3 separate regions of the Homo sapiens genome follow, and all the other regions are linked to region 2. The links come from fine-mapping of genetic effects on gene expression. A gene starts in region 2. Each other region holds a variant in brackets. All regions are shown on one strand. Distances are from middle to middle. Region 1 overlaps MKNK1 (MAPK interacting serine/threonine kinase 1). Region 2 holds the start of MOB3C (MOB kinase activator 3C). Region 3 holds the start of KNCN (kinocilin).

Region 1 (8,174 bases), 38 kb before region 2:
CCTTCCCTCCGGCCTCCCTTCTCCCAAATCAAGGGCAGTTTTTAAGTCCTTCATCCTTTTTATTAGCTTGACTCGTTTTGGAAGTCTCTGGGATTCATGATGGATGATCACCACCCTGGGTCTTAATCAGAAGTCCACACACATACTCAACGGTAAGTACCTCCTTGCAATTTCTCAAAGACCAAGTAAAACCTTGTGTCATCTTCAAAGAACTCAATCAGCTCCAAAATGTTCCTTAAATAGGGAAAATAGGAGGAGAGGGAAAAGGGGGGAAATGGTATTATATATTAAAGTCTACTTACAAATATACAATGAAAAAAATATACAACACCTGGTAGTGGGGCAGAAACCAACTTGAAATCAGAATGCTTATTAAAGACCCGCGTATGGAAGCAGCCAATGGTGTTAGCAAGATTCAGGTCACCTTATCTTTCCATAATGTTTAGTCTCTGGTGTTTTCACCAAGTCTGTGCTGTCAAACCCCAGCCCTAAAACCCACTAGGTAGAGTTATAAAAAAGTCCCGGTCACATTAAACTGAATAAAATCTGCAGCCGACTGGAAGCAATTGCGGCTAATAACACTGAATACTAGGTGTGTGTCCTGGAGGCAAGCAGCAAATAATTACTTGCCCTCCCTCTTGCCCATAAATCACGGGGCAGTATTTACATTGCCTGGAGAAAATGGAAACATCTGTCAAATGGACTTGGGGCCTAACATGGGCACCGCTAGACCCTAACTGCTAAGCGCTGCTTAATGAAACGGCCGCGTTCCTGGCCACTGTAGCACTTGTGGCCTTCCCCGGTGAGCACTCTCTGTCTGCCCGAGTATTTCAGTGCTCTGCCAACAAGGTCGTCTTGTAACTCAGTAGGGAAGCCACCAGCCTGGATATTGGAGGTGTTGTGGGCTTTTTTTCTTTTACAAAATAAAATAAACCAAGTAGAGTCTCTAATGCTGAACTAAGAAGCTGCAGGGCTGAAAATAAAAATCTGTCCCTCATAAAAAAAATGCTGACTACTTTGGGAGATATGAGGCTTTTACTAGTGTGAAGGCATCCAAATAAGATGGGCAAAATGGCCTAATTTGAAAGAAGATTGTGGAGGCAGTGCCTGGAGTTAAATCAACAGCAGCCCCCGTCCTCCAATCCTCCAAGCTTAATGACAAAGCCATCAATACCAGGCCACTGGCTCCCTGCTGACCCTACCGTGGAGGGAGAGAGGGGGAAGTGGAGTCTTAGAGGTGCCCCTGATTTAAAGCCACAGTGGGAGAGCTGCTCATTTGGAGCTGGTGGTGGGCAGAATGAACTGGGGCTAGAGATGAGCCGGACCCAGCTATCTGGAAGGTTCCAGGATCTTAGTGGTATCTGCACATATGTAAACATTCTAGGAGCAGAAACAGCAGCAAATATTCTTAACAGTTCTCCTCATCTTGGTATTAAGGCAAGTCCTTAAAGATTTCTACCAGGCAACACTCAGTCAACCTAGTTTCCACAGGTACCGAAAGAAATAAAACCCCATTTCCCCCCAACAACCACTGATTCAGATAGTTCATTCTTCTAACTTGCTTGAATTGATGATATTTACAGTATTTCAGAAGAGATAATAGCTCCTTTGCTGTTACTGCTGCTTTTCCTTTCTCTCCCTAACACTGAAAGGGGCGGAAGGAGGTACCTGCCTTGTGGGGACAGGAGTGAGAGCTAAATGCTGGAGTCAGGAGATGGTAAGAAATAGCCTCCTCTTCTGTGGCCAAGCGTCCCCCCAGAGAAGCAGCGAGAATCACATGATACTCACTTGTTTCCCTGACACTGATACAGCGTCTCCACCTCTCGAAACACCCTACTCCGACTGTGCCCTGCTTGTTTCTCGATGATCTGTGGGAAGAATAAAATCTGTCATGTACACCCACCTGACTTCCAAACAGCCCTTTGGCAGGAGTCCTCTGGGAGAATGCAAGGCCACACTCAGTCCAAATCCAGTGTCCAGCAGAAGTCTGGCCTAGGCCTTGGTGACACCGGCACTGTGGCTCTGTTGGCAAAGCAGCAGACTGGCCTCAGGGCTTTCCAGCTCAGCTGAGCCCATTCCACTCTGGCCAAGCACAACACCAAGGAAGTGAATGAGGCTGCTGCCCCCAGCTGCCCAGGGGAGACTGAGGCAGCCGGCAAGACAAAGAGCTACCTTACTCAGCTCCACCTCCTGTGGACACCTCTTTCTGCCTTAAGGGTAAGCATTTACTGCATCTACTGAAGGATCTTCTCATGCTGGAGGGAGAGGCTGATGCAGGACACCGTGGCGAGGAGCTAAAGCTTTGACACCCAGCTCAGAGGCTGCCTCCACGATCCCCCTGGCAGAAGTAGGCTCTTCCTCTTCTGAGAACTTACTCTCTGGCAGATACTGTGTTAAATGATTTATTTACGGCCGGGTGTGGTGACTCACACCTGTAATCCCAGCACTTCTGGAGGCTGAGGTGGGTGGATCACCTGAGGTCAGGAGTTCTAGACCAGCCTGGCCAACACGGTGAAACCCCGTCTCTACTGAAAATACAAAAAAATTAGCCAGGCGTGGTAGTGGGTGCTTGTAATCCCAGCTACTCAGGAGGCTGAGGCAGGATAGTCACTTGAACTGGGGAGGCGGAGGTTGCAGTGAGCCGAGATTGTGCCATTGCACTCCAGCCTAAGTAACAGAGAGACTCCATCTCAAAAAATAAATAAATAAATAAATAAATAAACAATAATAATTTATTTACATAATCTCAGTTGACCTTTATGACAACATCAAAAGATAGGGAGGTATGAAACATTTGCCTGCAGTCCAGAGCTGACTCCTAAGCCCTTGCTATCCCATACCTGCTTAGATGCTCTAACTTCTTCGAGGACCTGGAGGCTTTGTCTCTCCTGTGATACGGTGGGCTGCTCCCCCTCCACACTTTTACCTGAGATGCTTGTCAAATGCTGACTGAAGGAACAGATAAGCCAACAGATGGGAGGGTGGTTTCCAAAGGGACTGGCTGCCTCTGCAAAGCTCTCTGGACCCATCTGGAGCCTCAAACCACTGCACACCGAGCCTGTGAGCAAATCTGCAGAGCCTAGCTCTGCCTTACAGCTCCAACGTGCACAGTGGGCAGCACAATGACATCCTCTTCCTTCATTGAGACTTCAAACTTCTCCGATATGATGTGGCACAGACATCTGTGACCAACTGCAATTTTCTAAATAAGTGTGTCTGTTTGTAAACCACAGTGGGCCCATTATCTGAATGGAGAGGTGTAGTGCTGGGGAACAGAAGTGATTCAACTTCATTCCCCAAGCATTTCAGATCAAAGTCATGAAGAACTTTCTAGCAGGCAAGCCTTCCACAGCACAGTCTTCTCTGAGGAAGTAATGGGCTCTTGCTACTAGAGATGGGGGAGCAGAACATGGACAACTATCTGGGGAGTCAGAGGAAATTCAGGGTTATCTTGAAATTCCATCCCAACCTTGAGAGTCTAGGATCAGCTGGGTGCCTATAGGAAAAGCTGTAATAAGCTAAGTATTGTGGGGCCATGTTGGGAGAAGTAGCCCATCTCTAGGGAGCTTTGAAAGAGTAGGGGAGAGAAGAAACATGGGCAGAACTGCTGAAACCAAGGAATTGCCAAGCCAGAGTCCAGTGTTTGCCTCAAAGATGCCAGGGGGGATGTGGAGGAAGGGCCAGGTTTTCCTCCCATTATCCAACCTTGAAGAAATATACCTCTCATCCATAAATGTATTGAAACCTTTGAAAATCAGTTTATGTTTGTGGTTTTTACCGCATTT[A/G]GACAGATATATCAATTTTTTTTTTTTTTTTTTGAGACAGAGTCTCCCTCTGTTGTCCAGGGTGGAGTGCAGTGGCACCATCCTGGCTCATTGCAACCTTTGCCTCCTGGGCTCAAGTGATCCTCCCACTTCAGCCTCCCAGGTAGCTGGAATTAGACGCACATGCCACCACACCAGGCTAACATTTTTTTTTTCTTTTTGTGACAGAGTCTTGCTCTGTCGCCCAGGCTGGAGTGCAGTGGTGTGATCTCGGCTCACTGTGCAACCTCTACCTCCCGGGTTCATGGGATTCTCCTGCCTCAGCCTCCCAGGTAGCTGGGATTACAGGAATGCACCACACCCGGCTAATATTTTTGTATTTTTAGTAGAGATGGGTTTCACCATGTTGGCCAGGCTGGTCTTGAATTCCTGACCTCAGGTGATCAGCCCGCCTCAGCCTCCCAAAGTGCTGGGATTACAGGTGTGAGCCACATGCCTGGCCTAATTTTTCTATTTACACTTAGGCGTATGTTTTAAAAATCACTTGTAATTTATACTGAGCTGTTTCCCAAAAGAAATTAAGACAGTGCTCTTGTTACCATGTGAAGCAATACTCCAGCTGAAAGGAACGTGGCTTAGCAGACTTGCTCAACCTTCTAACCCGCAGCTGGGACTGTGGAAAGTTGGTTCAAAGAAGAGAAAACATTTCCTTCAGGAGCCCACTGGGCTGGGATTGCCAATGTGAGGTGGCATTTGACCTGGTGGCTCAGGTGGGTGATTTGAAATCAGCTTGGATTTAAAAAGACCCTTTCTCTAGGTCAGTTAGTCCTCAAACTTTGGTGGCTATGAGACTCAAGTGGGGAATCTGGTCAAGCCACAGAGATCCAGACCCTATCCTACATCTGGAAACCTGGATCTGTGTGTGCTTTGTTAGAGCTCTAAGGGCTTCTAACACATAGTAGCATTCACAACTGCCCTTCCTACAACAGTAGTCCTCAAGGATTAGTGAGTGTCAGAGTCACCAGGAGAGTTTGTTAACATTTGTATTGCTGGGCCCACCCCTGTTTCTGAGTTGGTACTTCTCAGGTAGGGCCAGGTAGCTTCTATTTCTAACAAGTTCCCAAGCGATGCTGAGGCTGGTCCAGGGCACACATTTTGAGAACCACTGCTCAAGATCCAGCTCTTCTTCCATGTGGAGAGGGCAAGTGGAGGCACAGAGGGGTGACATGAGCCACTCCAAGGCCTTACAGCTAATTAAAGGCAGCAATGAGGCCAGAAGCCACTTCTCCTGCCCCAAAACTGAGTGCTCAGTCGCTTTAGTTTTGTTTTCTTCTTTTAATTTTTTTTTTCTGAGACATCATTCAGATGTTACCAAATCAGTCACCTTAGTTTTTAATCCTCACTATCATGCTAACATCTAACACTTGGATAGCATTTTGTGACGTGTAAAGTGTTTCCACCTCTCCCAGGATATTTTAATTTTCATCTTCATAACTGCCTCAGGAGACTGAAGGGCAGGTATCATCATTTAGAGATGTAGGAACTGAGGCTTACGGACATTTGATGACTTGCCCAAAGTCAAACAGTTATAGTTTGTCAAAATAGATATTCAGGTAGGCCTTCTAATTCCAAATCTGGTTGTCCACTCCCTGAAGCTGACTTCATTTGTCAGAATAATGAGAAACTTACTATGAGCCAGGCATTGTGCTAAGCACTTTACCTATATTAACTTATTTAATCCTCACAACAATTCTACATAGGTTCTAGTATTATACCCATTTTACAGATGAGAAAACTGAAGGACAGAGAAGTTAAGTAACTTGCCCGAGGTACACAGTAAGTAGAGAAACCAAGATTTGAATCCAGTGAATACAGCTTCAGAGTCCCCATTCTTATGGAATATAACATTTATTTGGTTCAAGATGAGCTAGGAATGACTATTTGCAAAGTAAAGCCTGGCATTCAGCTGAGACACTCACTTTGACGGCATACTCTTTGCCATTCTGTAGGCTCACGGCACCTTGAACTTTGGCATAGGCTCCCTCTCCAAGCAATTCAGAGGTCAGCTTGTACATATCTAGAGGTGAAATGGATGAGAGGAATAACAAGATGAGTCACCCTACTGCAAGCTCAGATGGGAAGAACTTTTGTGGCTCAGCTTCCCTGATCAGACGACACAGGCACCCAATGACTCTAGCACTCAGTGACAAGGAAGACAAGTAGCTTTCCCAGCCACCTGAGGACCCAGTTTCTCAACAACAAGACCACATACAAGGCATCCTGTTCCTCATTTTAGCGATGAGGTTAGCAAAAGGGTCTCAATTCGGCACATACTTCCTGAATATCTACTATGTGCCAGACAGCATAACAGAGTAAGGAATAAAATAAAGGCCAGGTGCAGGGGCTTACACCTGTAATCCTAGCACTTTGGGAGGCCAAGCCAGGAGGATTGCTTGAGGCCAGGAGTTCAGAACCAATCTGGCCAACATAGCAAGACCCCATCTCTAAAATATATATACGCATGATCCCTCTCCTCTAAGGGTCGCAGTCCAGTGGGGAAGACAGACACATACACAGGTGACCCCAGAATAAACCAGGCATTGGTAAATACTATCACAGAGGGACAAAGTACAGTTAAAAAAAAAAGTTGGGGGAAGAAAGGGTTAAATCTGTTCAGAGAGGCTGGGCATGGTGGCTCACACCTGTAGTCCCGGCACTTTGGGAGGCCGAGGTGGGCAGATCAAGAGGTGAAGAAATCGAGACCATCCTGGCCAATGTGGGAAACCCCGTCTCTACTAAAAATACAAAAATTAGCTGGGTGTGGTGGCACGCGCCTAAAGTCCCAGCTATTTCGGGGGCTGAGGCAGGAGAATCGCTTGAACCCGAGAGGCGGAGGTTGTAGTGAGCCAAGATCGTGCCACTGCACTCCAGCCTGGTGACAGAGTGAGACCCCATATCAAAAAAAAAAAAAAAAAAAAAAAAAAAAAATTGGTCAGAGAATCTGGAGGATCATCAGAGGAGAAGTGGTATGATTTGAATGAATATTCATTTACTCATTTACTGAGCACCTATTATGTGCCAAGTTCTGTGTAAGCACTGGCTATACAAAGGAGAATAAAACACTGTTCTATTTTATACCCCATACATGGAAGTCATTGGAGGCTTCTGAGAAGTCTCCAGAAGTCACCCACAGGAAATAGAAGTAGGATGCAAAGGACACCTTGAGGTTTTTAGGGTACTGAGTCATAGTTGTTCTAACAGAGTAATAGACCTGGGTTAAAGGAACATCTAGATGACCTGCCCAAGCTCACAAAGAGCACAGCTCTTTGAGCCCCTTCCAAAGGAGGCTACATCTCCATCACAGCACTAGCTGCCTGACCTCATCCCCACTCGGCCTCCATTCTTCAGCCTTTTCCTCTTGAGGCACCTAGCATTGAAACCCACAGCCTGAGCAGAAGACATTTCAACCATGAATTAGATTTTATCACTCTCAGTCAGGAGAAGTCCTGTCATTGCACAAGCTGTCCTTAAAAATAGGAAGTACTCTCTTGTGTTAACTGAAAGAGCAAAAGAGCTGTTGATTAGGAAACTATTTGAATACCTTGGGATCTTTGTCTCTCCCCCATCCCCATACCCTGACACACACAGACACACACACACAGACACACACCCCTGCTGTTTGAGTTAAAGGCAAACAAAAAACCCCTGCTGAAAGTACCTTCTTGGTTCCATCACGGTTTGGTCTTTCAGTTGTTTATAAGAGCAGATGGCACACTGTTATTCGTAAGTGTTTTAAATGACATGCTTCTCACAATGGACACATTGGCATTAGCCCTTTACACATATCAGGATAGGTGGGTGGCTGGAGGTCCCATATTCCCAACCGATAAAGTGCTTGTTATTGGAACCACTTTACAGAACAGCCAATTCACTAGTGTGTCTGGAAGGCTGGAAGGAGGGACCAAGAGGCGAAGCTACTTCAGACCTCACAACGAAAGAAAACAAAACAGATGAAGTGGGGCACGTTACTCCTAGGAGTAGCTACTGATCCTCTTGGTGCTTTGCACAAGTGTCCAATCACCCCATCACATGCCCAGTGATAACAGGACCCACACTGAGCCTAGTGCCTCGCACACAGAGAGTGTCAAAAAATGTCTGATGACCCAACATCGTTTCTACTGAACACAACACGTATTCTTTAAAATGTAGTCAAACACACACAGCATAAGTAGCTACAATCTGAGAGACAAATTCTCTGCTTACAGGAGACTGAAGTTTCATTTGCGGCCATGGCCTTTGGTGTTTCTCTCTTCCTCTTATATAGTTCTATCTCTCAGCAGCCCCTCCAGGAATAGCTGAGGGAAGAATCACATCTGAAAAAAGGAAGACCCCAGGCAATGCCACTGATAG
Region 2 (8,174 bases):
GTGGGTGCCTATAATCCCAGCTACTCAGAAGGCTGAGGCAGGAGAATCGCTTGAACCCGGGGGGCAGAGGTTGCAGTAAGCTGAGATCTCACCACTGGGTGAAAGACCGAAACTCTGTCTCAGAAAAGAAAAAAAAAAAAAAAGAAAGAAAGAAAGAAAAAGAAAAGAAAGAAAAGCCCCAAATTGGGAGTCAGGAAGTCCTAGCAAATGCTTGACCTTGAGCAAGGCACTTAACCTGTTTCAACCTCGCTTTCCTCTTCCACAAAATGGGGATGAAAATCAACCCCCAACCCTGCAGAGTGTCTATATCAAACTAAATCCTCATCTGTGGAATGGGCTCCCAGTGGCTCCCTCCCCGCCAGGTGACACTCACCAACACGCGTGGGAAAGACCTCTTCGTCGTTGATGAGGCCTTCGATCCAGTCCATGAGCAATGCCATATAGCGCGGCGCAGAGAGCTTGGCGGGCCGCCGGTACTGGCGCTCGTCCTGCCAGCGGTACTCGTAGCGGGGCCCGCCGGCCATGACCGGGCAGCTGGTCTCACTGCAGCGCTCCGCCATAGTGCCGTAGATGAGGTTGATGCGGTTGAAGAAGTCCACCACGTGCACGGCGATCCAGTCGTCGATGTTCTCCCCGGGTGGTAGCCTCACCACACTGCGCAGGTCCAGGCCCGACTTGAGAGAGGCCTGTGCCTTCTTGTACAGCTCAAAGCGCTGTGTGCCCGGCTCAAAGCGCTTCCGCGGCCGGAACGTCTTGTCCTTGGCGAACACCTGCTTCAGGCACAGGGCCATGGCCAGCTGGGCCTGGGGCTGCTGTCCAGGGGCTCGGACCTGAGGATACCCTGCCAGGGACAAGGGCATAGGGGAGCTGGCGGTCAAGGCCTTATCATCTGGGCTCTGACTTCCCAATTCATCATTTCCCTGTCACCTCTCAGCCTTTGCTCAACCTCTGCATCCTCTGCCTGGAATCTAAGTCCTCAGCCCCTAGGTCCAGTGCCCCGCCCTCTTTCCAGGCTATGTTAGTCCCCCTTGCTAAGCCCCCACAGTCCTCCCATCTTGCTTTGTCTCTTTTCTGCTTTCATTGCAGAGCTGGGCCTGGGCTCTAAACAGGTGCCCCTCAGACTTGCTGTTGGTCACGAGAGAGGTCGCAGAGGCTCCCTGCAGGCCCACCAGCAGACAGGGGCTTGGACGAGATGACCTCTGGGAGCCCCCTTGGCCAGCTGGTGCAACGTGGGAGAGCCTCGCAGCATTGTGCTGGGGGCAGGGTGGAGGGGGGTCGGGGGTGGCTTTCGGCTTCCTCTGGGATATCCCGTAGTCCATCCGGCCACCGGGGATTCCCAGGGAGCAGCAGGGAACTTTTCTACCAAAAATGTCCTTTCCTTTTTTTTCACCCTGAAAGAGGAAAGGGCCCTCCCGCTGCCAGCTGGGCGGCTTCTGAGTGTGGCTGCAAGCACTGGAGGAGGGGGAGGGCGGCAGGCCAATGAGGGCGTCGCTTCCTCTGACAACAGCTGGAGATCCTTCCCCTCAAGCCAGCCTCCTCCAGCCCCAAATCTGAACAAGCCACTGGCTCCTCCCGTTGCACCTGACACTCAGTAGACATTCCTCTAGCAACTACTATGTGCCTGGCACTGGGAGGTAGAAGAGTATAGTCAGATGCACCCAGGAGGGCCCATCTAGAGCTCAGGCAAATTTACTTTGCCTCCTAGAATTTAAGGATCCCAGATTCAGAACAAATTTTGGGAGACAGTGATCAGGGCCCTAGGCTCAGAGGCAGGAGTCCTGGGTTCTAGTCCCAGCTCTACCACTGGCTTACTGGGTGACCCCTGTATCACCATGGATTTAGCCCATCCAGGTCCTGGGTCACTCTGCTATAGCTAGGTTTCTAAGACCTGAGTCATCTCATCTCAACTGTGAGTGTGTGAGCTACTGGGAAATGCAGACCCATGTACCTACCAAAACTAGAATTTAGCCACCCACTAAGCACACTGCCCCTGCCCCTAGACTGAGCACTAAGGCTGAGTATAAGCTAAGAATTGCATTCTGGTTCCTGGCTGACCTCTGACCTGGGCTCTGGCAAGTGTGAGCCCTGACTCTAGCCTTTAGCCCTACCCTGAGGCTTGCTTATGGCCAAAGCCTGGGCTTGACCTCTGACGCTGGAGCACTGTCCTTTCTCACATCTCTGGTAACCCTGGGACAGGATTGGGGAAGGGAGGGTGGGAACCAGGTGACACCTGGGTAAAAGCAAAGGGATGGCACATATTTCGGGGAGGGGTATTACTTCTGGCAAGAAGTCAAACTAGCTGGGGAGCTGTTTGAGACAAAGGTCCTTCCTTGAACCCACAAAGGCAGGCCAGGATGGGGGCAGTCTGGTAAAATGAGAGCAGCTTGGAGAGTAGAAACAGGCCATTCAGCAGGAACTTGTTCTCTTGAAAAAAACTCACAGATGTGAAAGGTCATCTCATCCATCCCGACTCTTCGACTTCTCACCCAAAGAAGTCCCCAGGGTGGGACCCCAGTTTCCAGAGCAAAGAGATTTCTGCGCTTCATTTGCCATCTCCATTTTAAACTCTGCTTGGGGCAAGTGCTTCCAAAATCCCTCACACTGCAATTAGGCGGGGCTCCTGGGCTCCCCACATTGCATGGCCCCCTTTATGACAGTTAGAAATAGGCCCCCACCCTGGCATTCAGCACCTTGTCCTACCTTTCCTGCCCCACTTCCCACCTCCCCACACCAACCACCCTGGGCTTCTTCCTGATTCCTGAACACGCCCCCACTCTTTTGCCTCTGCATGTTTTCTTATCCCTCCACCTGCCTGACCACACATCCTCAGATTGGCTGCTACCTCCTCCCACAGCCTCCTCTCCTGAACTCAGATCTCCTTCTCCTTGGGTAGAGGCTGCTTTTGGTCATTGCAGTCTCCACTCCATCCCCAACCCACCCCCAGCTTAGGACAAGGCCTGGCACAAAGTCAGTGTTCAGGCTTTAAGGAAAGCTTAGACTAGAATCTTAGAGTTAAAATAGCCCTGATAGATCAGCTGGCCCAACTCACTTGTACAGATGGGGAAACTGAGGCCCAGATGAGGAAACTGAGGCCTAAAAAGAGGACTTGAGGAGCCTGTGTCCACATAGCAAGTTACAAGCAGAACTGGGAACTGGGATAAGGTGGGGCTCAGCTCATGACCAAGAGTAAAAGACCATTTTCCTGCACTGGCTCATCAATGGTCTGGTGGAGACAGAGAAGAGGAGGGGAGTGGAGGGACAGTGGAAGCATCTTCTCCACCAAACAGCCCAACCTGCTTCCTGTCCCCAACACACTGACTCCGCACAGCAACTGGGGTGTCCTGACCAGTGAGCTAGAGTTCCACCTTACTCCTGTGGAACTTCAAGGCCTGGGTCTCTTTCCAGGAAAATGTAAGCTCAGGGGGTGGGTGCAGGGCAGGTGCTCTTCTAGCCACAGGGTTAACTCCCTTCACTCCCCACCCCCATGCCCTCACTGAGTTTCTATCTGTCACAGAACCTCTGTCTCTCCCTGAACCACTGCCGTTCCCCGTCCTAGCCCCCATTTCCCAGTGATGGCTATCCTTTCACTCCTGGAGTGGCAGTGCCTTGCTCGTTCCCTGGGTGCGGATCTGGGCTTCTCAAATGAAGACAGCAGGCTGACCCTACCTGTTTCTGATATTTAGCCCCCTGCTAGGCTACATCTACCACTCCTTGGGCCTGGCCCAGGATCTGGGCCAGAGGATGGCCCCAGTTTGAACCCAGAATCCATCCTGGGACTCTCTCTAGGACAGAGGTCGAAGAGAAAAAGTAGAGGCGAAGACTCCACGCTCTCCTCGCGGCGCGCAGCCACCCACGCCCACCCCCGGCTTCCCTGCAACCTCAAACCAGCTCCCAGGGCCAGGAAGGTCGTAGGACCCAGAGGAGCCCGCCTGACATTTCCGCTCCCCGAAAACACGCCCCCCAACCCCTCCCCTCTGCCCCGTACTCCCCCACCCCGACAATCCCCCCCGCAACTTTCGAAGCTCTGAGCCTCGGACGCCAGCCTCAGGACAGCGGCCAGCCTGCCTTCGGGCGGGACTCTCCTCCGGACTGTGCCACGCCAGGACGGCCGAAGAAATGAAAGTGGAAGCCAGGCGGGCGGGGTGCGCGGCGAGGCCGCAGGGGCACGGCGCACACTCACGGGTCCTCTTCTGGCCGTGGGGTCACATTCCCAGCCACAGGATCGCCTTTCTCCTGCAGGTCCCGCAGTGCCTGTTCTCTCTCCTGTCAGCCTGTCCGTCTGCCTGTCCTGCCGGCCGCGGCTGCCCTCCTGCCCCGGGCGACGCCAGCTCCGCCCCGGCCCCGCCACGCCGCGGCCACGGGGCGGGGAGGGGCGGAGAAAGGGGACTCCCCTCCACTCCAGTACACAGACGCACTCGCCCCCACCTTCCCGGAAAGTCCATATGGGGCTCCCAGCTTCCCCTTGGACAAAGGACTAACTGAGCTGCCCGCCCTCTCGGTGCTTCCTTGGACCTCCACCAAGGAGGCAGCCTCAAGTTCCCAGACAGTAAAATGGGAAAACGCTCGGCTTCTTCTGGAGCAGAAACAAGAGCTGCTAGATAAGGGTGGTTTCTTTGCCCTCCTAGAATCGTCTGCGTCACACTTGTCCCGGGACCCAATAAGGGATCGGGACCGTCCTATCCACTCCCATATCCTCAGCTCCTGGCACATAGCAGGAACTCAAAACCCACTTGATGAATGAATGAATGGGTGAGTGAAGGAATAAATGAACGCCTTGGGAATCATGAGCTGAGTCCTTCACCCCTGAGGGACAAGCCCCAGAAGAGCGCTCAAATCACAAACTTCATCTCCTCACCAGGGAGGGGGCCTGGCTCAGGTTGGGCTGATTCTCCTTGCTCCTTACCCAGAGTCACCCCATTTCTTATCTCCAGACCCTTATCCCAGCTGTTCCATTTTAGAATACCTTCTCTCCCTCCTTCCTTCTGACAAATCCAAACCACTCAAGATCTGATCTGCTCTCCCTACCACCTGGGTTCCTTCGAGGACAGACAGATATCCCACCAGCATTCAATGCACACCGTGGCCCCCAGGCCCAGGGACCAGTTGGCTGCTCTGTCTGGGATGGGAGGGAAGATTGGAGGCTTTCTAGGGTAGGAAGCCCAAAGCAGAGAGCTTAGCCATAGAAGCCACTCTGGAGGGGTGGGAGGTGAGTAGATGCGGGTAGGGGAGAGCTGGAGGCCAGAGGTGGGCATTTACCATGGCACACTGGACCTCCCTTGTGTCTGGACCTTCTGTTGCTGGATGACATGAGAACACGCTAGATCCTTAACCCAGATCATATCCTTTGCAGCAACATGGGCTGGAGCTGGAGGCCATTATCCTAAGCAGACTAACACAGGAATAGAAAACCAAATACTGCATATTCTCACTTACAAGTAGGAGCTAAACAATGAGAATACATAGATACTAGGAGGGGAACAGCAGACACTGGGGCCTGCTTGGGAGTGGAGGGCGGGAGGAGGGAGGATGAGACAAAAATACCCATCAGGTACTATGCTGCTTACCTCGGTGATGAAATTATCTGTACACCAAATCCCCATGACACAGAGTTTACTTATATAACAAACCTACACATGTACCCTTGAACCTAAAATAAAAGTAAAGAAAGAATCCCAGCTCATAGAACTGTGGGTATGTTCTTTTGTTGAGCACCAATTTTTGCCCCAGTCTAAAGTTCTCTGTATTTTTATGTCTGACTCTTAACTCTCTGCCCTGAATCCCCTATAAACAAACACTTGCTTATGGAGCAAATTAAACTATGCTTCTTTATTTATTTGATATCCTAATCAATATCTTTTATTGAGTATAACTCTCCACTCATATCAGATCAGGGGACTGGGTGATAAAGCTGACCTGGTTGCCGACCTCAGGTGCTGACAGGTCAGTAAAGGGGACAACACACAGAGATACACAAGGTCACAGCTCAGTCACCCAGAAGTGAGAATGTGGTTGTGGACTGACGGACTTTGTAAGAGTCGGGGTATTTGCAGGAAGCACATGGAACACCCAGAATGGGTATGTTTAATGAAGACATTATTTACAGGTATGGTCAAGGTGTAGGGAAACCACACAGTGTATCACCAAAGGGCTCACAAGAGCAGAGGCTGTCAACCCCAGGCTGCAGGAGTGTGGGGAAGGAATGGTGAAAGTGGGAGCTATGAGGAGGGCGCTGCTGTGGCCTAAGGTGGAGGGGCATACCCAGCTCACAGCAATCATACAGGGAAGGACAGGGGGCAAGTAAGAGGCCTCACTCTCCTCCCTCTCTCCCTCCGTCTGATCTCTGGCCAGGTTTCCCCCACTAGCTGAATCCTCCCAGAAGCTAAGAACAAGGGAACCTGTTGCTGCAGCCCATAGACGTCAGCCTCCTAGGGCGTAGAAATGGGTAGAGGGTGGAGAGCCATCTGAGGAGCCATGTGGGGTCAGGGCTGACTTCATAGGGGAAATGATTTGGAAACTGCTTGTGTTTTCCTTATCATTCAGTTCTAAATAGTTCATAAATTTCAGTGTAATTTCCTCTTTAACTCTTGAATGATTTCAAAGTATGTTTTTCAGTTTCTCAGCCTATGGGAGGTTTATGTTTTTCTTGTTGAGTTCTAATTATATTGCATTGTGGTCAGAGATCATGGTCTGGAAGATTCTTCAGAATTTGATGTGACTTCCTCTGCAGAGGCTTTGTGCAGGGTCATTTTCTGGACCTCTGAGCTGGGTTTTACAGGATAGGCAGGAGTTTTTCTGGTGAAGAGTGAACAGCACAGAACCTTACACTGTGGGAAATAGAGATGATCCATTTTGAAGGAACATCAGAAATTCCCAGCTCATCCTCAGAGTCCCTGGGTGTCTGTGGGATGGGAGGCAGGTGGAAGGGTTGGGGGAAGCGAGAGAGCCCAGATCTCTCAACTACCTGTACCCTCTTCCTGCCCTTCTCAGTCTTGGTTAGAGAGACTAGTTCTTCTAGGAGGCTCTGCTGGGGCTGAAAAGACCCAGACCTTGGAGAACAGTGTCCTGGCTTTACCGTAATTTAGCTGTGTGGCCTTGGGATGGTTCTGCCCTCTCTGATGAGACACTGTAACCCTCCAGCACTGGAGACCTACACAAGATGGGCTCTGTTCCCTGCCACTGTGTCTTGAGTATGATAAATGGCTCCAGAAGACTTCAAACAAGGCTCATCTCTGAAGCTTGGCGTGAGCCAGTGAGGACCTAGGAGAGGACGTGCCCTTTTCCACTACTCAGCCTGGGCACATGCCCCCCTCGCAGTGGGAACTCTGAGTGGCAGCAGGGTGGTGTCTACCTGCTGTGTGCCTTTGGGAAAGCCCTTGCCCCTCTCTGGGCCTTAGTTTCTACACCTCTACCATGAAAGCATCTTCTAGCCATACGAAGTACCACTCCAAGTACCTTATCAGAACCAGCTTCCTGTGCCTTCCCGCTGTAGGCCTGTATCCAGTGACTCTACTGATACAGAGTGGCCACTTCCTGGGGACTCCCCAGCCCTTCCTATGCCAAGAAAGCTCCCCCACTCCCACCCTGCCCCCCAGAATAAGATACTGCACCCTCAGTTCACCTTACCAGATGTCTGGCAGCTACTATAGCCTGATAGGGCCCACCCTCTACTCACTCTCTCCCAAGAAAGAGTTTCCATTTCAGCTTCTGCCCCTCCCTGCCCAGGAGGCAGGATCATCCGTCCTGGATTTTCCATCCTGGCCCATTGAGGAGAATGCCATGGGCACCCTTACGGCAGTCAGAGGAATTGAGGTTAAACTTCCTTTCACTTGAAGAAGACAAGGTTCAAGGGAAGATGGCAGGGGAAGACAAGGTTGACAAGGACATGCACTAAAATTCTGTGTGACCATGGACAAGGCACTTGTTCTCTGAGCCTATTTCACCTTCTCTAAAGTAAAGACAACAACAACAACATCTGCCCCACAGAAGAGCTGAGAGAATCAAATGTGATAGCACTTGTAAACAGTAGAAGGCTGTGGTCAGTCTGTTTCAGGGGTACTGCCTTCAAACACCCAGCAGGTGTTTGTGTGGAAGAGGGACTGAGCTTGTTCCAGGGTCCTGGAGAGCAGTGGGCAGACACCCAGGACAATATGAAGGGGCGCTTGGCACATCAGAGC
Region 3 (8,174 bases), 65 kb before region 2:
GGACCCCAAATTCCAGAGAAACAAATCAGTAGATTGAACAGGCAACAAAGCTGAGCTGCAGTCCAGAAAGAAAGGCCAGGGCAGGAGCCTGAAACATGGGAACCCTGTGGGGGCGTCCGGCGACACCTTGCTCCAGGTCCCAGCCCACACCAGTGGAATCCATTTTGGAGAGGCTTGGCCGGGCGAGTGCAAAAGGCCCCATTCCAGACACTGTTCCCAGCCGCTCTGGGGTCTGCAGGGCCTGGCTTGTCTCCGGTCCGGGTCTCCTAACCCAGGAGGGCACTGACATAGGGGCAGCAGGCAGGATGGGAGGGCAGGGCATGGGCAGCCGCTCAGACTTTGCCTCAGCATTCCTCAGCCCCCCGGGTCCCCGGCTTCAGCTTCTCCAGGGTCCTGCTCACGGTGGACAGGCTGCTGCGGGCTCCTGGGGGAGAGAACAGGGACGAGGACTGCCTCCGTAGACAGGTCCCCATGGAGTTGTCAGGGTCAGAGGAACTCAGAGGGACCCAAGGCCGGGGTGCCTGGTTGACCCCAGGGCAGAGCTGGGATAGAATGGGGAGAGGGGAGCATCCCAGGGGACAGTTTCAGCCCAGTTTAAAGAGGTACCTCCAGTCAGGATGGCTTTCAAGAGGGCAGCAGCATAGGCCGGGGGTAGAGGCGGGACCCCGGAGCCCACTGCCTGGTTTGAGCTTTGACTGCCGCACTTCCTGGCTGTGTGGTCTTGGGCATGTCACTAAATCTCCCTGTGCCTCGGTTGCCCCTTATGTAAAATGAAACTAATGATAGTGCTGCCCTCATGTGGTTGTTGTGAGACTTAAAAGAGCGAATAATAGATGAACAGGGCTGGGAACAGTGTCTGGAATGGGGCCTTTCACTGAGTATTAGGCATCCAACCCCTGGTGGCAGAGACTGGGCTGGGACCATCTTTGAGAAACTCCTGCCCTGGAACTTTCCAGGTGTGGGGTGGAAGAACAAGGAGATGCCCAGTTTGGGGTATGAACTTTAAACTGGGGTGGTTAAAGCTAGTACCCAAAGCTGGTACCCATGGCCTCTTTAAACTGGGCTGAAACTGTCCCCTGGCATGTCCCCCCCTCCCCATTCTATCCCAGCTCTGCCCTGGGCACTGGGAACCCCAGCTTGGGTCCCTTTGAGTTCCTCTGACCCTGGGAGAGATGGGAGAGGGGAGTGGGAAAATAAACTGAGGTATAGGACCTGGGGGAGGGGAAAGGGAGGGAGGGGAAGGGGCAGGGAGGTGCCCTCATTCCAGTGTCCACGCTGGGCAAGACAGAAGCCCTCAGAGTAAGCAAGAGGAGATCAGTTCAGCTTGGAGCAGCAAGGGTCTGACTGTGCACCTGGGGAAAGTGCCAGCAGTACCGTCTCCCCGCACTGGGGAGGCCCCTTCGGCATGCCGCTCAAGGCTCCCGGGCCCCATGGAGCTGCTCAGTCAGGGAGGGGAGATGAAAGATGGATTCAGGCTGGGCACGGTGGCTCACGCCTATAATCCCAGCACTTTGGGAGGCCGAGGCGGGTGGATCACCTGAGGTTGGGAGTTCGAGACCAGCCTGACCAACATGGAGAAACCCCGTCTCTACTAAAAATACAAAAATTAGCCAGGCGTGGTGGCACATGTCTGTAATCCCAGCTGCTCGGGAGGCTGAGGCAGGAGAATTGCTTGAAACCGGGAGGTGGAGGTTGCAGTGAGCCGAGATCATGCCATTGCACTCCAGCCTGGGCAACACGAGCAAAACTCTGTCTCAAAAAAAAAAAAGAAAAAAGAAGGATGGACTCGGGAATTTCTGGAACTTACCTTCCTTGTTGCCATTGGTGCTGGATCTTCCTTCCCCGTGGTCTGCCCCTGGATGGGGATGGATTCTTAGGCTCCCTGCAGGATGAGACCACCCCAAGCCCCCTGATTACTGAGCCATTCCCCAAATCAAGCCTAGGTTGGGAAGGGAAGTCCTTCTTGCTATCTAGTCTCCATCCCTGATGCTGTCTTTGCTCCACTGCATTCCTTTAGGTCTCACATGATCTGGGCTGATTTGGGCAGGAGAAAAAGAACTGGGCCCTTGAAGGAGAAAATGGCAGATCTTTTAGGGAGGTGAGGTCCCGGGGAGAACTGGGGCCATGAGAAGCCCCATAGGATTGGTGGAGATGGCAGCCTGTATGTGGGGAGCTGAGATGAGGTGGGAGCTGTGCAGAGGCTGTGGGGTCTTAGGGGAAATAGAGGGTCTTTCATGGGGGCTCAGGGATGGAGAGGGAGTTATTTAGAGATGTTGGAGGCTTTGGGGAGTCATAAAATCTCTCAAGGGAGATGAACTTCCCAGCTCTGAGCTGGTTCAGGCACCTTTGCTGCAGGCTGGATTCTGCCGTTCTGTAGTCATGGCAACGCCTGCACAACACACACACACACAGCAGCTCTAACACAGACAGCTAGCGCGGTCTCACACATGGGCTCATCCCAGCCACACAGTGGGTCACAGACGAGCACACAAAGGGTCTGGAACAGTCCTTGGCAGAGGGGTCTGCTGGGGTCAGGGAGAGGCCTCACCTATGGTAGGCAGGATGTGGTCCAGGTTGAACCGAGCCTTCAGGAAGGGGTAGGCCAAGATGAGGAGCCCTGAGAAGAGACACAGGGGGTTCTGTGATGGGGAGGAGCCTGGTGAGTGTTGAGGCTGTGGGTGGGCTGGGAGCCTGAGGGGTGGTTTGTGAGATATGGGTGTGCATGGGAGGAGCACAGTGTGCAGACTTGGGACTGTGAGTGTGTAAATGTGAGCCTGTGGGTGTGTGCATCTGGGTTGGTGGGGGCAGTGCCTGTTTGGGGAAGAGGCTACAGACTGTGAAGGCCCCACCTGCCTGGCTCCACCGTTCCTAAGTGAAGAGCAGGTTGCTGGAATGAGCCTGGCTGACACCACCACTGCGTCTCTGCTGTCCCCACGCTTCCCCAGGGCCCCCAGGGCCGGACTGGGTGCTTGTCCTCAGCATGTTCCTCCCCACCCAGACCTGGGGAGCAGGAGCAGTGGAGCCAGTCCTGCCTTGCCCGCCCCCGCTCCATCCCCCGATGAGCATCTGTGCCAGAACCCGCAGGTGTAGATACCTAAAGCCCCCTAGCCTGATGCTTCTGGTCCTGCCTTTGGCCTGGGCGGGGGCGGGGGGTGGGGTGAGGTGAGGTGAGGTGAGGGATGGCATTCAGCGTCACTGCGGGGCAATCAGTGGGCGTGGCCCCACACAGATAGATGGACACAGCTGCTGTGGAGGCAAACAGGGAAAGAAGACGAAACCCTTTTTCTGAGCTGGAGCCTGTCTTGGCTCAGAGAGTCCTCAGGAGCTCTGTCCTTTTACCTGCCGCCATCAACCCCCTGTTCCGCCCAGATAGGCTGATGAATCCCACCACAAATCCAGGAGCCTAGAGCTTGGGGCTGGAGAGCCAGTGGGAGTAGCCAGAAAAGAGTGTGACGGCCAGCTCTCCTTCTTTTCTCCTCCCTGTGGCTGGAAGGAGCCCCAGCGCGTCGCTCCTCTCCCGCCTGTGCCCCTGATGGCGGCCTTGCTCACACCTCTAGCTTCCGTTCTCCCCAGCTGATTCCTGCTGACCCAGCCCTTCCCTGTTCCTTGTTCACCTGACGATGCCCCTGCCCCCACCTCCAGAATCTCCCTTCCCTATCCCAGCCCAGCCCCTGCTCACCCAGAACAGCAGCGCCAATAAAGACACCGCCCATGGCAGCTGCAGCCTTGGATACGGAGATGCCGATAATGATGCTGCCAGCCACCAGCCCGAGAGCCACGCAGGCCAGCTGCAGGCCGCGGAAGTCTCTGCTGCTGATGGGGATGTCCATGCAGGCCCACCCGGGGCACTGCCTCCAGC[C/T]GGTGCAGTCTGGCCCCAGAAAAGTCCTGGAAGTTTCTGGGCTCTTGGATGTCTCCTTGTTGGCGCTCCAACTTCAGGGTAGGAGTTTCTGGGCAGTAAGATGATAGGTGGGGAACCCTGGGATTTATCTGCAGTCCTATTCCACTGCTCCACTACGGGCCCCCCAGTCCCACCTTGACCAGGGATCTGTACGAGGTCACCCAGCTTACTCTTCCTCTCTCAAAGCCCTCTGAAGCTGAAGCCCACCCTTGGGACTCCTGTCTGGCTACATTTCTGCTTTGGCTGCCAGAGTTCTAGGGAGCTGGGCCTGTTCCATAGGATCCTTCCCTGCCAGCCTCCACCCAGGAGAGTTCAAGCTCCCCTGCCCAGGACATCCTGCCCCAGCTTCCTAGAGCCACTTACTTGCCACTGAACCTCAGCCTATGAAAATTTAAAGCAATGAGAGGCAGGGTGAGGGGGGAGTTGGTCCAGCGGCCACAGGCTCCTCAGAGATGTAGGCAGCAGGGAGGTGCTGAGTTATTCATGAGGTTGCAATGTGAGTGGCTGTCTGGGTCCCAGGGCCCAGCGGGCAGTCAGCCCAGGTTCCACTGCTGGTTCCTGAGGAGGAAGAACGAGCTGGTGGCTTTGCATGTCGTTCAGAAGCCAGGGATGTGAGGAGACTCCTGATCACATGCTCAGGGCCCGCTGTAATGTGCTCTGCCCTTTGGCCTGGAGGTGCACCTGGGGTCTCTGCTTGGAGTCTGAGATAGACACACAGCAGGAGGCTCAAGAGACAGGAACTGCACCTGGTATGGAAAGCGGACAGGGAGAGGCATCCCTCCAAGTCTGCTCCCTACCCCTGCCCATCCCATCCCCATCCTGTCCACCTCTGGGCTCCCAGGTAGGGCTGAGGGCGTCCTAGTTTGAGGCTTGATCTCAGGGGACTCCCTTGTCCTCAGGTGGGCTTGGTACCCACCCCCCTTTTAGTGGCCAGTGGAATGGAGAGTGAACCCTTCTAGCCACCTTGGGGATCCCGACTGGGAGTGAAAGGGAAGAGCAGTGGTGGTGCTGGTGTGGGCAGGAGGAAAACACCTAAGGGGTAGGGTAGAGAAGAGGACTTGGTAGGGGCTAGGTGCCGGGAGTGGGAGGCTGGGTCATGGTTGGTGCCTTCCCATCCGCTGAACTGAGCACCTGCACCCAGCCTGTCTGAGTTACTTGCAGGATGCCCCACCCCAAGGCTGGGCAGTGGTCACCAATGCAGCCTAGCCCTGAGCCCTGCCCCGGCCCCCAGTTCCAGCCTTTATCATTCATTGCGTTATTTGGCCCTTTATGGATTGGGGACCCCCCAGTCTCAGAATATGGCCCCGGCCTGGCCCTGCACCTGGGCACAATTCCTAGGGTCCCATAATCCTGCTCGGAGTCCCGTCGCCAGCCTCCCTGGCCTCTCTTTGGATGCCCCCTCTCTGCACTGCATCTGCAGTCTCATATTGCCAGGCTCAACTTCTTGTTCCTCCACCTGCCTCCATGGCTGCCCTGTTCTTGTTCTATCTCCTCTGTAGGCTGAGAGCCCCTTGAGGGCAGGTTCCAGGAGTGAGCTCCCCAGAATGCTGTGGCTGGGAGGGACCTGAGCTAGGCTTCTGAACATGAGGACAGAGTTCAGGGAGAGGGCTTGGACTGCACAACCACCTCCAGTCATCAAAGAGGAGGGCTGTGGACACAAGGGAACCTCTGTCTCTAACAAGAGGCATTCCTTGTATGTGGAGAAGGGGGCCTGAGAAGGCCCAGGGTCACCTGAGTTGGAGCTTCGGCTCATGATGAGTCTGTAGAGAGGGGTGACTGCAGCACACAGATGGGCCCTGGACTGTGTTCCTGTTCCCCACAGAGGGAACACCCCTGGAGCTGGGCATTCCCCAGCCACGGTGCTGCTGCCAGCATCTGCTGTGCCTCCTGCCTGGATGAGATCTGATTATTCCTCTAATTAGGCATCAAATCATAGCCCATGTCTCTGTCACACATAATTGATCCCCCACTGACTTAGTTTTAGAAGGAGCCACCAAAATAATTGTCCATGAAACGTGTTCCTTGCTCCTCTCAAAGTCTAAGGCTGAGGGCGACTCTCTCACACCCTCACCAAGATAGAAGCTCTTGGGGCCGCGTTTTCCACCTCGCACTATGGGGCTCGGGCCAGCCATTCCACCTCCCTGAGCCCACTGCCTTGTCTGGTGATGGGGATGGGGGTGGCAGAGGCACCTGTGCACTGCTTCAGATCTCAGAAAACACTGTGATCTCAAAGGAGAGGCACGTTAAGCCTTTTTCAGTTCCAAGATCACAGAACCAGGGCCGTCCCAGCTCTTCATATAGGTGGGGAATCCAAGACATGGGGAGACAGAGGAATTGCCCCAGAGTCCTCATGGATTCTGCCCCTCTGGGAAGTACTCTGGCCTATCTGCCCCTGAATTTCAACACTGTCTTAGTTGAGGTGGGAGGAACTGGCAGACCCACCTTCAGAGGGAGACATTGAGTTAAAAAATTAGTCAAGGGACCAGGCACTGTGGGATTACAATCCCAGCACTTTGGGAGGCTGAGGCGGGAGAATTGCTTGAGGCCAGGAGTTCAAGACCAGCCTGGGAAACATGGTGAAACCCTGTCTCTACAAAAACAAAAATTATCCAGGCACAGTGGTGTGTGCTTGTAGTCCCAGCTACTTGGGAGGCCGAGGTGGGAGGATCGCTTGAGGAGGAGGTTGCAGTGAGCTGAGATCACACCACTGCACTCCAGCCTGGGCGATGGGTGTGAAATCCTGGCTCAAACAAACAAACAAAACAAAACAATGAAAATCAGTCAAGGCCTGCCTCTTTCCCTCAGGACCAGGAGTGCATCATTAAAGGTTCCCAAAACAGTTGTGATGTAGAGAGGGAGGCCTGCCAATTCTTTCCTCAGTTTGGGCTATATCATCTCTGAAAAAGAAAATGTGTGTCCTTGAGTGACGTGCTCAGAGCAATAGGTAAGTGAGTTCAGGAACCTCTCTGTGAGCCATGCTGAGAGGGAGGCCCAAGGCACCAGGGCTCCATCGCCCCACCAACCCTCCACCCCTCCCAAGGATTGGAGCCTCCCCGCTGAACCTGGGTGCTCTTGGAGGCCACAGTTCTCAGGCATGGCAAGGCCACGGGCACATTGCTGAGTTCCATCACCCAGTCTCTTCTCTCTGTCTCCTGCTGAGGCAAGGACTGTGGAGCGTCTGCCCATGCTCCTTCCTTCTCAGTGCACCAAGTCCAAGTGTGGCGTGGGGGTGGGGAGGAACAGTGGGCGAAAAGGCCCCAGTTTGGTTTGGTTCTGTTTATTTTCCTTGAGGGGTGAGAACCCTGGAAAAGAGCGTGATTAATTCACCAATCCCCCGGGGGACAGGTAGCTTTCTTGGACCATTTGGAAGCTGAAGTCAGGGAAGTGGCTTCCAAGGCAACTGCTACCATGGCAACAAGAGTGCCAGCCTTTGGGGGACCTTGCTCCTCAGCCCCCTCCAGACCTGAAGCGGCTGGAGTGCTGGCATGGGACCAAGGCACCACTATTCATGGGGCTGGGTGTGGGAGGGCAGTCGGCCAGGAGGGAGGAGGCGCCCCCAGAGCCCAGGCAGGTAGACACACAGAGGGACAAAAACTGGACGGTCCCTGTGCCCAGAGGCCCTCAGACTGGAGTCCTCAGGATCCAGCTGAATCAGGGCTGGGGCTGGGGCTGGGGCCAAGGCCTGATCACTAGGTTTGAGAAGAGAGACCTGAGGTTTGAGACACTCCAACTGGCTGGGACCAGTGCTCTCCTTCTAGGCCCCGCCCACGCATGAGCTCTGGAGCTGGGGAGCTGCCTTCCATTATCGCAGATCCTATGCCTGGAAGGGGCTCTGTGGTCTCAGAGCCTCCTCAGTGCATCTGCTGGATCTGCCTCTGTCCAGCAGAGCCAGGACTTCCAAGGTCACCAGTGAATAGTGGCAGAGGCAGTACTGGAACCCAGGGCTCAGGTCCGAACTTCAGGCTCTTCCTGTTGTGCCACAGCTGCCCCTCTGGGCCAGGGACTGCATCCCGGAGGGGTGGAGCAGCCTGTCTGCCGGAGGATCCTACAGAGGGACAGAGTCCTGGCTCATCTTAAGAGGCCCAGACCTACCTCCACAGCACACAGTGCTTCTGTAGAGTGCTCCCGGAGCCAAGGACCAGGGAGGGCTCGTCTCTAGCACTGGGACCATGAGTTGTGTAATTCTGCCCTGGTAGATAACAGTAAATACAGGAGTCCCCCATTATCCCTCGGGGACACGTTCTAAGGCCCTTGGTGGATGTCTCAAACCGTGGAC

The links.
Region 1: its variant is fine-mapped to the expression of MOB3C in whole blood (TOPMed, PIP 0.94).
Region 3: its variant is fine-mapped to the expression of MOB3C in whole blood (TOPMed, PIP above 0.99).

The regions. Positions count from the first base shown.
Region 1 is chr1:46,574,787-46,582,960 of GRCh38, forward strand. MKNK1 (MAPK interacting serine/threonine kinase 1) reads right to left here. Exons shown (of 13, transcript NM_001135553.4): 4 at 5,744-5,841; 5 at 1,789-1,868; 6 at 161-234. Among named protein-coding and RNA genes, the nearest start is that of MKNK1, 25 kb to the right of the region's middle. The variant A/G (reference allele first, on the strand shown) is at 3,786.
Region 2 is chr1:46,612,531-46,620,704 of GRCh38, forward strand. MOB3C (MOB kinase activator 3C) reads right to left here and starts at 4,281. Exons shown (of 4, transcript NM_201403.3): 1 at 4,181-4,281; 2 at 374-841. The coding sequence starts at 791. RefSeq lists enhancers at 731-1,354, 3,706-3,775 and a silencer at 4,176-4,455.
Region 3 is chr1:46,547,386-46,555,559 of GRCh38, forward strand. It overlaps KNCN (kinocilin), which reads right to left and starts at 4,262. Exons shown (of 4, transcript NM_001322255.2): 1 at 3,680-4,262; 2 at 2,549-2,617; 3 at 1,808-1,882; 4 at 1-424. The coding sequence starts at 3,830. The coding sequence ends at 345. All of the region lies in intron 3 of MKNK1-AS1 (MKNK1 antisense RNA 1), which reads left to right. RefSeq lists enhancers at 1-447, 448-948, 2,385-3,024. The variant C/T (reference allele first, on the strand shown) is at 3,860.